Regions from separate parts of the Homo sapiens genome. Here region 1 is linked to region 2. A link means that fine-mapping ties the variant in region 2 to the expression of a gene that starts in the linked region. Tissue or cell type: cerebellar hemisphere. Region 2 holds a variant in brackets; the other region holds the start of a gene. All regions are shown on one strand. Distances are from middle to middle.

The links. PIP is the estimated chance that this variant, and not a neighbour inherited with it, causes the effect.
Region 1: ANKRD24 starts here. The variant in region 2 is fine-mapped to the expression of ANKRD24 in cerebellar hemisphere (GTEx, PIP 0.95).

What each region holds. Positions count from the first base shown.
Region 1 is chr19:4,178,118-4,186,117 of GRCh38, reverse strand. It overlaps ANKRD24 (ankyrin repeat domain 24), which reads right to left and starts at 3,429. Exons shown (of 22, transcript NM_001393985.1): 1 at 3,378-3,429. SIRT6 (sirtuin 6) reads left to right here and starts at 3,555. Exons shown (of 8, transcript NM_016539.4): 1 at 3,555-3,644; 2 at 5,209-5,336; 3 at 6,832-7,014. The coding sequence starts at 3,579. RefSeq lists enhancers at 3,372-3,421, 3,492-3,581.
Region 2 is chr19:3,883,014-3,891,268 of GRCh38, reverse strand. It overlaps ATCAY (ATCAY kinesin light chain interacting caytaxin), which reads right to left. Exons shown (of 13, transcript NM_033064.5): 2 at 5,425-5,542. The coding sequence starts at 5,501. Among named protein-coding and RNA genes, the nearest start is that of ATCAY, 6.5 kb to the right of the region's middle. The variant A/G (reference allele first, on the strand shown) is at 3,748.

The DNA.
Region 1 (8,000 bases), 290 kb before region 2:
AGCCTGGCCAAACATGAGGGGCTTCATAAATGCATCTCACTGGTATTTCCTGCGGTCCAAACAGATCAAGCCTTTTCTGGTCTCCTAACTTTTACCTGTGCAGTTATTTCTGCCTAGAATGGTTTCTTTTTTCTTCTCTGAACTCCTACTCATCCTTCAAAGCCCAGTTCCAAAATCCCTTGCTCTTATCAGCTTTGCCTCTTGTTCCCAAGCAGAGATCTAACTCCCCAAATTGGGTTCCCGCCTACCCTGGCTGGGTCTCTGCCTCTGCCTCACCCCTGGCTCCATGGGCTGGAAGGGTCTGGGCTGATTCTGTCCTTTTCAACAGTCAGGGGCTCCCTGGGGACTGAAGCCAGGGCTGACGGCTCTCAGCACAGAGGCATGTTTGCTACATAGTCAGAGGGAACCTCCATGTGACAGCAATTCACCCATAGTGGGTGGAGGTCTGGGGCAATGGCTGCATGCATGTGTGTGACGTTGAGTGTGGGGCGTGTGCACACGTGCACTTCTGTCCACCTGGGCCTGTTCTACGTTCCGCATGGGCAGGCACGGAGGTCAGGCAGGCCTATCTTGAGGGGGTGTGTTTTTTGAGGGGTGTGACTGTGAGGCCCTATGTGTGAAAGGGATTTCTGTGATGGAGAATCTGTATTTGCCTCTTACCAAGGAGTAGGGGTTGGCATGGCCTCTACCTGTCCACCTATCTACTCGTGAATTCTCCAAGCCACCCTTCCACGCATTTACCACCTATGCACTCACCTGGACATCCATCCTCCCACCTAAGCACTGTATAACCACCCACTGGCCACCACCCACAAACCCACCCACCCAATTCATGTTCTCATGGTTCTTCATCACCCTTTAATCAGATTTCACCCACACATCCATCCACCCACCCAAACACCTACCAACTCCCACCATTCATCCATCCACTCATCCACCCATCCATCCACTTATCCATCCCTTCATCCATCCACCCAACCACCCATCCATCCATCTGCCCAAGCATCCATCCATCCACCCATCTGCCCACCCAATCACACACCCATCCACCCATCCACCCACCCACCCATCCACTCATCCATCCACTTATCCATCCCTCCATCCACCCACCCAACCACCAATCCATCCATCCACCCACCCACCCACCAGTGCATCCATCCACCCACCCACCAGTCCATCCATGGATCCTTCCATCCATCCATCCATCCACTTATCCATCCCTCCATCCATTTGCCCAATCACCCACCCATTCATCCATCCACCCATCCATCCATACATCTACCCATTCACCCATCTACCAAACCACCAATCCACCTATTCGCCCCCCATCCATCCACCCACCCATCCATTCATCTACCCCTCCACCGGTGCCCATTCACTCACTACCTACCCTTTTTTCTTCTACCTCTGACTGGAGGATTCAATCACACCCAAAGCAGGGGGTAATAAGACACCCAACAGAGGAGTTCACAGGCTGCTTGGGAGAAGACAATCCGTGGGCTTGGGGGAGGGAGAAACGCCTGCTAAATTTAGGAAGCTGCTTGCTGGAAGAGGTGATGGTAAATAAGAAGGGCCTGATGGCCGGGTGGGATGTTGAGCACCTGCCTTGGAGGAAGCTAGGCAGGGCACAGGCCGGCAAGTGGGAAGTGCGTGGGTGAACGAGTGCATGTGTGTGTCAGGGTACCTGGGTAGCTCCGCAGCCTGGCTAGGACTCAGCACGGCTTCTTTCTCCCACATACAAGGGCTCAGGGGCCTGGGGCCATAAGGGGATCCTCCGTCCTGGGCCTCTCCCACCTCCTTCCTCCCCTACCTCCTGCAGCTCCAGTGCCCCGAGCTCCCGGCCACAGTGCCCACTGCCGGCTCCGGTTACCCACTCCCAGCTGGGCCACGAGCAGCTCCAGCCGCTCCACTCTGACACCTGATCGGCTCTGAGCAGGCGGCCGCCCCAGGGGGCCGGGGATGAGCCGAGGGAGGAGACAGGCTGGCAGCGGACTGCCTGTTGGCCAACTGGCTCTGGCGGGAAGACACCCACGATCTTCCCTATCATCACTGGACTGATTTCAGTTTCTGGAAGGAGCCATGCTCTTCCTCTTTCTCAGCCTTTGCACTTGCTGTTCCCCCCACCAGGAACATTCTTTCTGTACTTCATGTCACCCCAACCGGCTCTACCTGACTCATGCACTCTTTATTTATTTATTTATTTATTTTTGAGACGGAGTTTCATGCTTGTTGCCCAGGCTGGAGTGCAATGGCGCGATCTCCGGCTCACCGCAATCTCCGCCTCCTGGGTTCAAGCAATTCTCCTGCCTCAGCCTCCCGAGCAGCTGCGATTACAGGCCACCACACCCAGCTAATTTTGTATTTTTAGTAGAGACGGGGTTTCTCCATGTTGGTCAGGGTGGTCTCGAACTCCCAATCTCAGGTGATCCACCTGCCTTGGCCTCCCAAAGTGCTGGGATTACAGGTGTGAGCCACTGCGCCCGGCTCACTCACTTTTTAGATCTTTGCTGCAACATCCCCTCCTCCAGGAAGCCCTCCCGGATGCCCCCAGCCTGGGTCAGGTGCCTCCTGTGAGCCCCCTCACTGCCCTGTGCCCTCTGCATCACCCATTGCACCCCAACCACACCATGTCACCATTACCTGGTCACATGTTTGTGTCCACCCGCAGCCACCAGGGCATAGATGGTACCACCTTTGCTCTCCAGTGTGCCCAGTACAAAGTAGGTACTCAACACATGATTCTTAAATGAGTCCTCCAGGCCACCAGCCCCATTGACCTTGAGCAGGACCTGTCCTGCAGAATGCAGAACCTCCAGTTGGATGATACTCAGATAACTTGGCCGGACGCAGTGGCTCACGCCTGTAATCCCAGCACTTTGGGAGGCCGAGGCGGTCAGATCACCTGAGGTCAGGAGTTCGGGACCAGCCTGACCAACATGGAGAAACCCCGTCTCTACTAAAAAATACAAAAATTTGCTGGGTGTGGTGGCGGGCGCCTGTAATCCCAGCTACTAGGGAGGCTGAGGCAGGAGAATCGCTTGAACCCAAGAGGCGGAGGTTGCAGTGAACCGAGATTGCGCCACTGCACTCCAGCCTGGGCAACAGAGCGAGGCTCCGTCACACACACACACACACACACACACACACACACAAATGAGATATTCAGGTAACTCTGCGTGGCATTCAAAACCCTTAGGCTGGGGTCCCTGCTGTCCGGCTCTGTCCTTACGGAATTTACTAATCCGTAAAAGGGGTTGTGGGGACATGGATAGCCTGTGTCCCGCATTTTAGAGGTGACTGGAGAACTCTCACGTAGGCGGCCGCCCCAATTTCCCGCCCGGGTCATCGGGGAGCCCCTTCCCAAGCCCCGCAAACACCTGCATGCAAAGAGGCAGGCTTCCTTCTGACAGCAGATAACATGTCGCCTGCGGCGTCAGCAAGAGGCGCATGCGCCTTGCCGTGGGAGGCCGGGTGCGCAGGACTGGAACGCGGTTCCTCCTTCTTCCCCGCCCCGCCCCGCTTCCGGCGGAAGCGGCCTCAACAAGGGAAACTTTATTGTTCCCGTGGGGCAGTCGAGGATGTCGGTGAATTACGCGGCGGGGCTGTCGCCGTACGCGGACAAGGGCAAGTGCGGCCTCCCGGAGGTGAGCGCGTCTGAGGGTCCCGAGCATCGCGCCCCAGGGCCGCGGGCTGGGAGCGGCCGGATGGCAGGGGGGCATTGTGGGAATATCAGGGGGCACTGAGGCTAGACAATGGGAGGGACTTCCCAGTGAGGAAGGGGCGGGAAGTGACGCCCCTGCGCGCCGGGGGACGCCAACACGCCCAACTCTGTGGTCACCCTGTCGGGGCTGATCGGGGAGAGAGGGGATGTAGTTCCAGGAAGAGGGGACGACAGGCGCAAAGGGAGGTGGGAATAAACACACCTGGAGAACGATTAGGCCTGGGAGGTTTCCAGAGCCGGGCCAGGACGGGGCTCAAATGCCAGGCTGGGGAGTTGGCACTTTATCCTGAGGGTGATGGGGAAGGGTTTTGCCCTGGCGAGGGGACTGGACAGAATGTGCCAGAAAGATCCCTCCAGCCACTCAGAGGGGAAGTGGAGGGATCGGCTGCCCCCTCCACGCACTGTGGGACTTTGGGGAAGTCACTTCCCTTTTGGGTCTCCATCTCCAAACTTTCTGCAAACGAGGTGAAGATGGCCCCATTCCATAAGGCTGGCCCATGCATTCTGACTCATGCATTTAATGAGCGCTGATGGTGTGCGCCCGTCCAGAAGCCCCACTCTTCACTGCTGCTGTTAGTCACTTTATTATTATTATTATTATATTTTTGAGATGGAGTTTCTCTGTCGCCCAGGCTGGAGTGCAGTGGCGCGATCTCGGCTCACTGCAACCTCCGCCTCCTAGGTTCAAGCGATTCTCCTGCCTCAGCCTCCTGAGTAGAGTAGATGAGACTACAGGCACCTGCCACCACGCCTGGCTAATTTTTGTATTTTTAGTAGAGGCGGGGTTTCACCATGTTGGCCAGTCTGCTCTTGAACTCTTGATCTCAAGTGATCCACCCACCTTGGCTTCCCAAAGTGCTGGGATTATAGGCGTGAGCCACCATACCCGGCCTGTTAGTCACTTTATTCCACCAACATTTATAGAGCACTTACTGTAGCTCAGGCACTTTCTAGGTACTAAGGCCACAGCCAGGAGCAACACAGATTAAAAACCCCTCCTTCTAGTAAGGGAGACTGACTAGGGGTTGCATGGAAACCAGTTGGCCAAGGGAGGCATCACTGTCACTGAAGTGACATCTAAGCCACAAGTTACAGGAGGTGAGGGAGGGAGCCATGTGGGTATCTGGGGGAAGAGCATTAAAGGGTGTGGCCCTGAGGCGGGACTGTGCCTGGTGTGATAGAGGAACAAGGAGGAGACCTGTGTGGCTGGAGCAGAGTGAGGCAGGGAGAGGGAGGAGAAGAGGGCAGGGAGGGGGCAAGGGAGGTAGTGCAGGGCCTGGTGGGCCGTGGGAAGGGCTAGGGCTTTGACAAGGCAGGTGGGAGGCATGGAAGGTTGTAGGAAGAGGAGGGGCATGAGGACAAGCTGCCTTTTCCAATCCATTTTCCTCCCTCAGGCAAGACAGGGACAGCTCAGTCTGTGGCTCGTGCGTGGCCTTGCCACTTGGGGGAACTGTTTTGACCCCTCCGTCTGCTCTCTCCCCCCACAGATCTTCGACCCCCCGGAGGAGCTGGAGCGGAAGGTGTGGGAACTGGCGAGGCTGGTCTGGCAGTCTTCCAGTGTGGTGTTCCACACGGGTGCCGGCATCAGCACTGCCTCTGGCATCCCCGACTTCAGGTCTGTGATTGTGCAGGGGAAGTCGAGGCAAGGCCTACCAGGCTGCCAGAGGCTTCCCTGCGAGCCACACACATCTGGGAATGAGAACACATCCATCTGCTTTCCTCCTGGATGTGTCCTGGGTACTCCCTTTAAGATGTGTCCCTTGGCTGGGCATGGTGGATCACAAGGTCAAGAATTCCAGACCAGCCTGGCCAATATGGTGAATCCCTGTCTCTACTAAAAATACAAAAATTAGCCAGTTGTGGTGGCACACATCTGTAGTCCCAGCTACTCGGGAGGCTGAGGCAGGAGAATTGCTTGAACCTGGGAGGTGGAGGCAGTGAGCCGAGATTGCACCACTGCACTCCAGCCTGGGCGACAGAGTGAGGCTCCGTCTAAAAACAAAACAAAAAGATGTGTCCCTTGTCACAACCAGCATTCCACTCACCTCATTGGCCAGAACACGGTCACCTGATCACACCTGGCTGCAAGGGTTGCTGGGAAATGTAGTCTTTCATATTTGCAAGCGTAGCCAGGTGTGGTGGCAGGCACCTGTAATCGCAGCTACTTGGAAGGCCGAGGTGGGAGAATCGCTTGAACCCGGGAGGCAGAGGTTGCAGTCAGCCAGGATCATGCCATTGTACTCCAGCCTGGGCAACAGAGCCAGACTCCATCTCAAAAAAAAAAAAAAAAAAAAAAAAAAAAAGCCAAGGCGTGAATTTCTCCTCCTTCTCCTCTTCCATAACCTGCTGTGGCTCCCCATTGCCAGGCAGTGTAGAGTTCTGAATACCTTGTGCTGGAAGCTGAAGCCCTTCCTGCCCCAGCCCTGAATCACCTCTCCAACTTCAGCCCCTCCTGCTCCTGCTGCAGCCCCCAAAACACTTGCATTTTCTCCTAAACTCATGGGCTCTTCCCAGCACCCAGGCCTTTGTTTACCCCTTCTGTCTGATCTTCCCTCTCACCCTTCAAGAAACTGCTTAGCCTCCTCCAGGAAGCCCTTCCACGTGCCCCAGGGCCCCCACCTCCACGGGGCTTCCCCAGGCCCAGGTACCTCCTCTGATCCAGGCTTGACTCTTGGGGCCAGAGGATCTGTGTCCACCTGTCTCCCCCAAGATCAAGGGCTTCTGGAGGGCAGGGCTTGGGCCCATGTGAGCATCGTCGGGCTCATTGCAGCAGCAGTGTTGGTTGAATAGAATAAGTCATTTTTGCCTTCGTGTGAATTCATCTCTCTCTCTCTGCCTCTCCCTCTCTCTGTCTCTCTCCAATTCTGTCTCTGACTTGCTTTGTCTTTAACTCTTTATCTCTCTGTCTGTGTCTTGTTCTATCCCCCTCTCCCTGTTCTTGCAACTCACCCTCTATTTCTGTTTCTGATTCCCTCTCTCTGTCTCCCTGTCTCTCTCTGTCTCCTGATTTTCTCTCTCTCCAACTTTCTCTCTATACCTCTCTGATTCTCCCTCTGTCTCTTTTTCTGTTCCCCTCTCCCCGTCCATCTCTCCCGGCCTGCCACCTTCAGGGGTCCCCACGGAGTCTGGACCATGGAGGAGCGAGGTCTGGCCCCCAAGTTCGACACCACCTTTGAGAGCGCGCGGCCCACGCAGACCCACATGGCGCTGGTGCAGCTGGAGCGCGTGGGCCTCCTCCGCTTCCTGGTCAGCCAGAACGTGGACGGGCTCCATGTGCGCTCAGGCTTCCCCAGGTAACACCCTGGCCCCGCCCCCACAAAAGAGCTTGGGGCCCCACAAACCGTGTTTGCATTTTTAGGGGGAGAGTCCCCTTTTCCTGGTTCTATAAGATTCTAGCCCTGAGTTCTTGGCCCAGTGTGTGGAGATCTCTGAGTCCCATGGCTCAGAGCTGTCCCGGCTGAGGCCAGAGGCAGAATTTCCCTCGAGATGGGGCTAAGGGGAGGAGAGCTGTCAGGGTCTAGAAGTTGCAGTTTGTTTTTTGTTGTTGTTGTTGTTTTTGAGACCGAGTTTCGTTCTTGTTGCCCAGGCTGGAGTGCAATGGCGTGATCTCCGCTCAGCCTCCCAGGTTCAAGCGATTCTCCTGCCTCAGCCTCCCTAGTAACTGGGATTACAGGCATGCGCCATCACACCCAGCTAATTTTGTATTTTTAGTAGAGACGGGGTTTCTCCATGTTGGCCAGGCTGGTCTTGAACTCCTGACCTCAGGTGATCTGCCCGCCTCAGCCTCCCAAAGTGCTGGGGTTACAGGTGTGAGCCACCACGCTTGGCCTGTTGTGTTTTTAATATCCATCTTTATTAATCTGACACTAAACGTGTCTGACACTGAAGTGAACCTGTGCTCTGGGGCAGGCTGATTTCCCAATAAAAGTGTGGCCCTCCCCTGCCCCTCTTTGCCAGGTCTCACCCCTGGGGCAACCAATGACAGCCAGGTCAGTTGTTGAGACGAGGAGCTCGGCAGCCAGGGGTGAGGGGTGAGGAAGAGATTTTTCTCTGCTTATAAAAGCAAACGAGGGGCCGGGCATGGTGGCTCACATCTGTAATCCCAGCACTTTGGGAGGCCGAGGCAGGCGGATCACGAGGTCAAGAGTTCGAGACCAGCCTGGCCAACATGTTGAAACCCCATCTCTACTAAGAGTACAAAAATTAGCTGGGCGTGGTGGCGCATGCCTGTAATCCCAGCTACTCGGGAGGCTGAGTCAGGAGAATCGCTTGAACCCGG
Region 2 (8,255 bases):
ACCAGCCTGGCCAACATGGTGAAACCCTGTCTCTAACGAAAATACAAAAATGAGCCAGGCATGGTGGTGCGTACCTGTAATCCCAGCTACTTGGGAGGCTGAGGCAAGAGAATTGCTCGAAACCAGGAAGTGGAGGTTGCAGTGAGCTGAGGTTGCACCACTGCACTCCAGCCTGGGTGATACACTGAGACTCTGTCTCCAAAAAAAAAAAAAAAAGTGCTAGAAGGGCAGAGGCCATGCAGGGCTCTGTCTGACACCCTTAAGGGCAGTACAAAGACCACTTCTGCAGTCCCCAGGGGAGGGGATGGCTGGGCTGGAAGAAACAGAATTGTGAGCTGTTTTGCGGCAGACAGAGGTGGTTATGTGTGGCCGCAGCTGGACCTGCACCGAGGAGCCGACTCAGTTCTTCCAGAGACGAGGAAGACAGAAGCCTCGTGGAGGAAGTGTCCTGTTGGCAAAGGCGTAGCTCGTGGGGGCCAGGCTGGCACAGCGAGGCCACTGTCCTGCAAACACAAAGCTGCTGCAGCGGGTGGGCGAGAAGCCTTGCAGCTGTAAGAAATCCACCAGAAACACACCCTCCTCCCGCTCCCGCTGGCCTCGCGCCTTCCAGAAAGGGCCTCCAGCTTGCATTTGCAGGTGCGCTCGGCCTTGGTTTTTGTCTCAAGAAGGCTTGGGTGAGATGAGAGCTTTTAAAATTATCGGTGGAGGCCGGGTGTGGTGGCTTGCGCCTGTAATCCCAGCACTTTGGGAGACCGAGGTAGGCGGATCACTTGAGGTTGGGAGTTCGAGACCAGCCTGGCCAACATGGTGAAACCCCGTCTCTACCAAAAATACAAAAATTAGCTGGGTGTGGTGGTGTGTGCCTGTAATCCCAGCTACTCGGGAGGCTGAGGTGGGAGAATTGCTTGAACCCGGGAGGTGGAGGTTGCAGTGAGCCGAACTCGCGCCACTGCACTCCAGCTTAGGTGACAGAGTGAGACTTTGTCTGCAAAAAAAAAAAAAAAAAAAAAAAAAAAAAAAATTATAGGTGGAGCTGGGCCCAATGGCTCACACCTGTAATCCTAGCACTTTGGGAGGTGGGCAGATCACCTGAGGTTGAGAGTTCGAGACCAGCCTGGCCAACACGGTGAAACCTCGTCTCTACTAAAAATACAAAGATGAGCTGGGCGTGGTGGCAGATGCCTGTAATCCAGCTACTTGGGAGGCTGAAGCAGGAGAATCACTTGAACCCAGGAGGTGGAGGTTGCAGTGAGCTGAGATGGCGCCACTGCACCCCAGCCTGGGTGACAGAGCGAGACTCTGTCTCAAAAAAAAAAAAAGAAAAGAAAAGTAAAGAAATAAAAAAAAATCAGTAGGGGGAAAGGGAGCTAAGCTAATAATAGTAATAACGCTGGAGATGATTATTTATTTGTGCTGCCTTCGCCATTTGCACAGCCCATCTCGGCTGTTTTATCAAAATTTCATGACCACCTGGTGCGCGAGAGATTATTGTCCTATTTTACAGATCAGAAAACAGAGGCACTGAGATGCCCAAAGAGGTAGCCCAGGTGGCAGAGCAAACCTGCTGGGGAATTGGGATTTGAACCATGGGCGTCCGATTCCAAAGCTTATGCGCCTTTGTTTATGCTGTGCTGCTTGAAATGACATTATTTTAAAATTATTATTATTTTTCTTAGATATGCAGTCTTGCTCTGTTGTCCAGGCTGGAGTGCGGTGGTGTGATCATAGCTCACTGCTGCGATGTCCCAAGTCCAAACAATCCTCCTGCCTCAGCCTCCTGAGTAGCTGAAACTACAGGTGCACACCAGCATACCTGACTAATTTTTTTTTATTTTTTATTTTTATTTATTTATTTTGAGACGGAGTCTCACTCTGTCGCCCAGGCTGGAGTTCAGTGGTGCGATCTTGGCTCACTGCAACCTCCGCCTCCCGCGTTCAAGCGATTCTCCTTCCTCAGCTTCCCGAGTAGCTGGTATTACAGGCATGGGCCACCACGCCCGGCTAATTTTGTATTTTTAGTAGAGACGGGGTTTCTCCATGTTGGTCAGGCTGGTCTCAAACTCCTGACCTCAGGTGATCTGCCAGCCTTGGCTTCCCAAAGTGCTAGGATTATAGGTGTGAGCCACTAGGCCCAGCCAGTTTTTGTTTGTTTTTTGTTTTTTTAAGAGACGAGGTCTTGCTATGTTGCCCAGGCTAATCTCAAACTCCTGGGCTCAAGCGATCCTCCCGCCTTGGCCTCCCAAAGAGCTGGGATTACAGACATCAGCCTCCGCTCCCAGCCGTGATTCTCTGATTCTCGGCTATTCTGAGAACAGGGACCTCCTGCTGCAAAGAAACACAGACAGGTGCATGGGCCTTAGAGGCCTGGCAATGACTGGATTCAGGAGAGGGCTGAAGTTCTTGAATATCAAGATGCCGTCTTCAACAGTCCTCCTTCTGCCTGGACATGAATGGGAAGGAAGCTCTCGGCCTCCCACACCAGCCTGACTCATTTTGAAGGAGACCGATTACTTCAAGGCATTCTTCTGTATCTCCTTCAAACCCCATTCTCTTTTAAGTTCGTTCTTTTGGCCTCGTTCTGCCCTCCGGAACCCTCTCAGATTGAAATTTTCCTGGAACTGGAGATTCTGTTTTTTTGAGACACTCTCACTCACTCTACTGCCCGGGCTGGAGTCCAGTGGCGCGATCTCGGCTCACTGCAACCTTCGCCTCCCGAGTTCCAGCAGTTTTCCTGCCTCAGCCTCCTGAGTAGCTGGGATTACAGGTGCCCACCACCACGCCCGACTAATTTTTGTATTTTTAGTAGAGACGGGGTTTCACCATGTTGTCCAGGCTGGCCTCGAACTCCTGACCTCAAGTGATTTGCCCGCCTCGGCCTCCCAAACTGTTGGGACTGCAGACGTGAGCCACTGTGCGCGGCCTGGAGATTCTTTTCCAATTCTCTTTTTCAGGCGGAACACACCTGGTCTTTTTGACTGAACCTCACCCAATAGTTTCTATAACTGACCCTTGGGCATTGTGTTTGGGGGATGGATGAATTCCTGGTTCTGAAAGGGAAGAGGGATGAGCAGCTATCTTTAGCCAGCAAATCAGAGTCACACGTCTCAACAGCAAATTCGCACAGCTTCCTTTCCATGTAGTATTTTTTTTTTTTTGAGACGGAGTCTCACACTGTCACCCGGGCTGGAGTGCGGTGGCACATCTCGGCTCACTGCAACCTCTGCCTCCCGGGTTCAAGTGATTCTCCTGCCTCAGCCTCCCGAGTACTGGGGATTACAGGCGTGCACCACCATGCCCAGCTAATTTTTTTTAATTTTTATTTTTAGTAGAGACAGGGTTTCACTATGTCGGCCAGGCTGGTCTCAAATTCCTGACCTTGTGATCTGCCCACCTTGGCCTCCCAAAGTGCTGGGATTACACACACCTGAGCCACAGCGACCGGCCTTTTTTTTTTTTTTCCTCTCTTTTTAAATAGAGACAGGTGGTAGGGCGCGATGGCTCACGCCTGTAATCCCAGCACTTTGGGAGGCCGAGGTGGGCGGATCACGAGGTCAGACGATCGAGACCATCCTGGCTAACATGGTGAAACCCCGTCTCTACTAAAAATACAAAAAATTAGCCGGGCGTGGTGGCGGGTGCCCGTAGTCCCAGCTACTCGGGAGGCTGAGGCAGGAGAATGGCGTGAACCCGGGAGGCGGAGCTTGCAGTGAGCCAAGATCGCGCCACTGCACTCCAGCCTGGGCGACA[A/G]AGCGACACTCTGTCTCAAAAATAAATAAATAAATAAATAAAATAAAAAAAATAAAATAAAATAGAGACAGAGTCTCGCTCTGTCACCCAGACTGGAGTGCAGGGCTGCAATCATGGCTCGCTGCAACCTCTGCCTTCTGGGCTCAAGGGATCCTCCTGTCTCAGCCTGCCAAGTAGCTAAGACTGCAGGTGCACACCACCATGCCCAGCTAATTTTTTTTTTTTTGGTAGAAATGGGGTCTCACTATCTTGCCCAGGCTGGTTTCGAACTCTTGAGCTCTATCAATCCCCCCAGCCTGAGCCTCTGTAAGTGCTGGGATCATAGGCGTGAGCCACCGTGCCCAGCCCCTGTGATTTCTTATTCTGACCAGTGATCAGCACCTGTCACCCAATATTTGTTAAGCGCCGACTGTATGCCAGGCACTATCCTTAGGTTGGGATACAGCAGTGAGCTAAACAAAGACCCCTGCTCTTGTGGCGCTCCGTGTGGTGGGGAGACAGAGTGTAGACAAGATGTCCCTGCAAAATGTTCAGCGTAGGGGCCGGGCGCGGTGGCTCTTGCCTGGAATCCAAGCACTTTCGGAGTTCGAGACTGGCCTGGCCAACATGGTGAAATCCGGTCTCTACTAAAAATAGAAAAATCAGCCAGATGTGGTGGCGGGTGCCTGTAATCCAAGCTACTCGGGGGCATGAGGAAGGAGAATCACTGGAACCCAGGACCTGGAGGTTGCAGTGACCTGAGATCGTGCCACTGCACTCCAGCCTGTGGGACAGAGTGAGACTCAAAAAAAAAAAAAAAAAAGTTCAGCATGTTAGGGGAGGTAAGTGTCTCCTAAAGGCTGCTAATAAATCACCATGGTGCCTCAGCCTCCCGAGTAGCTGGAATTATAGGCGCATGACACCATACCCAGCTAATTTTTTTTTTTTTCTTTTGAGATGGAGTCTCACCTGTCGCCCAGGCTGGAGTGCAGTGGCGCGATCTCGGCTCACTGCAAGCTCCGCCTCCTGGGTTCACGCCATTCTCCTGCCTCAGCCTCCCGAGTAGCTGGGACTACAGGCGCCTGCCACACACCCGGCTAATTTTTGTATTTTTAGTAGAGATGGAGTTTCACCATGTTAGCCAGGATAGTTTCCATCTGCTGACCTCATGATCCGCCCGCCTCGGCCTCCCAAAGTGCTGGGATTACAGGCATGAGTCACTGCGCCCGGCATGCCCAGCTAATTTTTGTAGTTTTAGTAGAGACGCGGTTTTGCCATGTTGGCCAGGCTGGTCTCGAACTCCTGACCTCAAGTGATCCGCCCACCTCGGCCTCCCAAAGTGCTGGGATTACAGGCGTGAACCGCCGCGCCCAGCCAGAATGTTAAGAACTCTTAAAATGGTGTAGGGGTGGGGGGTCCTTTGGAGCTTTGGGGCAGGGAAGACAGAAATGAATCTTAAATCATTGAGCAAATACCCATTATGTGCCTGGCCAGGACTACCCCACTGTGAGGCCACAGAGAAGACTCGCACACAGGGCCTCAGGCCTCCCAGAGTGTGCGGGAGAGGAGGACGCGGAGATGGAACCAGGCCAGCCCCGGGCGGTTCCCACTTAGAGAGAGACCCGGGCCGCTCCTGTGTCCCACCTGGGAGAGACACCTGCTCCCCCAACGGTTGACTCAGGGATGTGGAAGTCCTACCTGGGAAGATCTTCGTCCTGCCATTCCTCCTTCACGTCCACGTTTTCCATCCGGAGCGTGGCTTCGGTGGTCCCCATGGGAGCTGGGAAGAGGCACTGGCTTGAAGCAGGGATGACCCCTGAAAGGAAGCCGCAGAGGAATGGGTTTTACTGGACAATAGTCCTAATGACAATCGTCTACCCCATGCAGCTCTTCCCCCTCCCACTCCCCCTCCGTCTCCCCCTCCCCCTTCCCCTCCCCCTCTCTCCTTTCTCCTCTCCTCTCTCCTTCTCCTTCTTCTTCTTCTTTTTTGAGACGGAGTCTTGCTCTGTTGCCCAGGCTGTAGTGCAATGGTGCCATCTCAGCTCACTGCAACATCCACCTTCCAGGCTCAAGCGATTCTCCCGCCTCAGCCTCCCAAGTAGCTGGGGTTACAGGCACCCATCACCACGCCTGGTTAATTCTTGTATTTTTAGTAGAGACAGGGTTTCGCCATGTTGGCCAGGCTGGTCTCGAACTCCTGACCTCAGGTGATCCTCCTGCCTTGGCCTCCCAAAGTGCTGGGATTACAGGCTTGAGCCATCACACCCGGCTAATTTTTGTATTTTTAATAGAGACGGGGTTTCACTGTGTTGGCCAGGCTGGTCTCAAACTCCTGAGCTCAAGCGGTCTACCCGCCTCAGCCTCCCAAAGTGCTGGGATTACAGGGGTGAGCCACTGAGCTTGGCTGTTTTTTTTTTTTTTTTTTTTTTTTTTAAAAAAAAAAACATGATCTTGCTCTGTTGCCTGGGCTGGAGTGCAGGGGCACAATCATGGCTCATGGCAGCCTTGAACTCCTGGGCTTAAGCAATCCTCCTGCCTCAGCCCCCCACCAGTAGCTGTGACCACAGGTGTGTACCATCATGCCTGGGTAATTTTTTAAAATCTTTTTTTAAGAGATTGGGTCTTGCTATGTTGGCCAGGGTGGTCTCAAACTCTTGGGCTCAAGCAATCCTCCTGCCTCGGCCTCTCTAAGCGCTGAGATTACAAGGGTAAACCACTGTGCCCGGCCAGCACTTCTTATTGAACCATCACCGAGCCCCATGAGGTTCCCCTGTTTTACAGATGAGAAAACAGAGGCACAGAGAGCTTAGGATGCACAGTGGGGTTCAGAGTTTGAACGTGGGCGAGAGGCTGAGCCTTCAGATACAAGTCCTGCTCCCTTGGAAACTTCGAAATCTACCTTCTCCAGGGTGAGCCATGACCCAGATAGACTTACCCTCCCTCTTGTGCCTTGGACCTCAACTAGAAAGCAAGAAATCCAAACAGTCATTCATACTAAAGTGTGAATGGCTGATATACTTCAGCTTCCGTGCTGGGAATGCCAAGTTCAAAGAGAATCCAGTAGGCTCTAACCCATCGCTATCTGCCATATGTACCAGGCCACCTGTCCTGCCTCTCTGTCCTCCCTCAAGCAAGTCCTAGTGACTTTCTGACTCCAGGGCTCACTAAGGCAGTGTGGAAAGAGACTGGGGTTAGAAAGGAGACCCTCATCTTTACTACCACAAAATGCCACTTTATTTATTTATTTATTTATTTAGAGACGGGGTCTTGCTCTGTCGCCCAGGCTGGAGTGCAGTGGTGTGATCCCAGCTCACTACAGCCTCCAACTCCTGGGCTCAAGCGATCCTCCTGCCTCAGCCTCCCAAGTATCTGGGACCACGAGTGTGTGCCATCATGCCTGGCTAATTTCTCTGATCTTGGTATGTCACCCAGGCTGGTCTTGAACTTTCGGGCTCAGGTGATCCTCTTGCCTCAGCCTCCCAGAGCGCTGGGATTACAGGTGTGAGCCACTGTGCCGCCCCACCCCCCACACCAGTTTTGTTTTTCTTGTTCTGAGGAGCTCACTGGGGGCAGGGGCAGGGGCAGGGCAGGGGGGAGCAGTCTGGGTGGGGGCCAGGATCAGAGCTGCCAGGTGAGACTGAGTTGTGGTCTGCTCTGGGGCATGGCAGACTCTCAGACCATCTCCCTCTCTGGGTCTCAGTTTCCCTTTCTGTAAACAAAAGAGTTGAATTAGAGATGACCTCTAAGATACCTTTTGGACATAACATACCAGCATCTTATGACTCAACCAACCCCATCTGTTTTGGGCTTTGAAACCAGTGCTTTGCACCTGTGGACAATTCTGCCTCCCCTGCTGCAAGGGGACACTTGGCATTGTCTAGAGGCACTTTTGTCACAACTGAGGGGAAGGAGTGCCCCCTGGGCAGGCCAGGGGTGCTGCTCAGCACCTTACAGTGCCCAGGATGGCCGCCCATGACCAAGAATGACTGGGTCCCAAATATCCATAGATCCAAGGTGGAGAAACCTTGTCTTAAAGGCAATAGTCATTTCTGTGTGCATTCCCGTGTTTGCGAAAGGATTTCAGGCCTGTGTCCGGCAGTCATTATAGAGTATTGTACACTCTGTCCTTCCATTACCTCTGTCTGTCTCTCAACAGCTTCCGAGTAGCTAGATCCACTTTTTTTGTTGTCATTTTTTTTTTGAGACAGAGTCTCGCTCTGTCGCCCAGGCTAGAGTGCAGTGGTGCGATCTCGGCTCACTGCAACCTCCACCTCTTGAGTAGCTTGGACTACAGGCGCGTGCCACCACGTCCAGCTAATTTTTGTATTTTTAGTAGAGATGGGGTTTCACTATATTGGCCAGGCTGGTCTCGAACTCCTGACCTCATGATCCACCTGCCTCCCAAAGTGCTGGGATTACAGGTGTGAGCCACCCTGCCGGGCCACTAGATCCACTTTTTAAAGCGTCTAGGGGCTGGGTGCAGTGGTGCATGCCTGGAATTCCAGCACTTTGGGCAGATCACTTGAGAC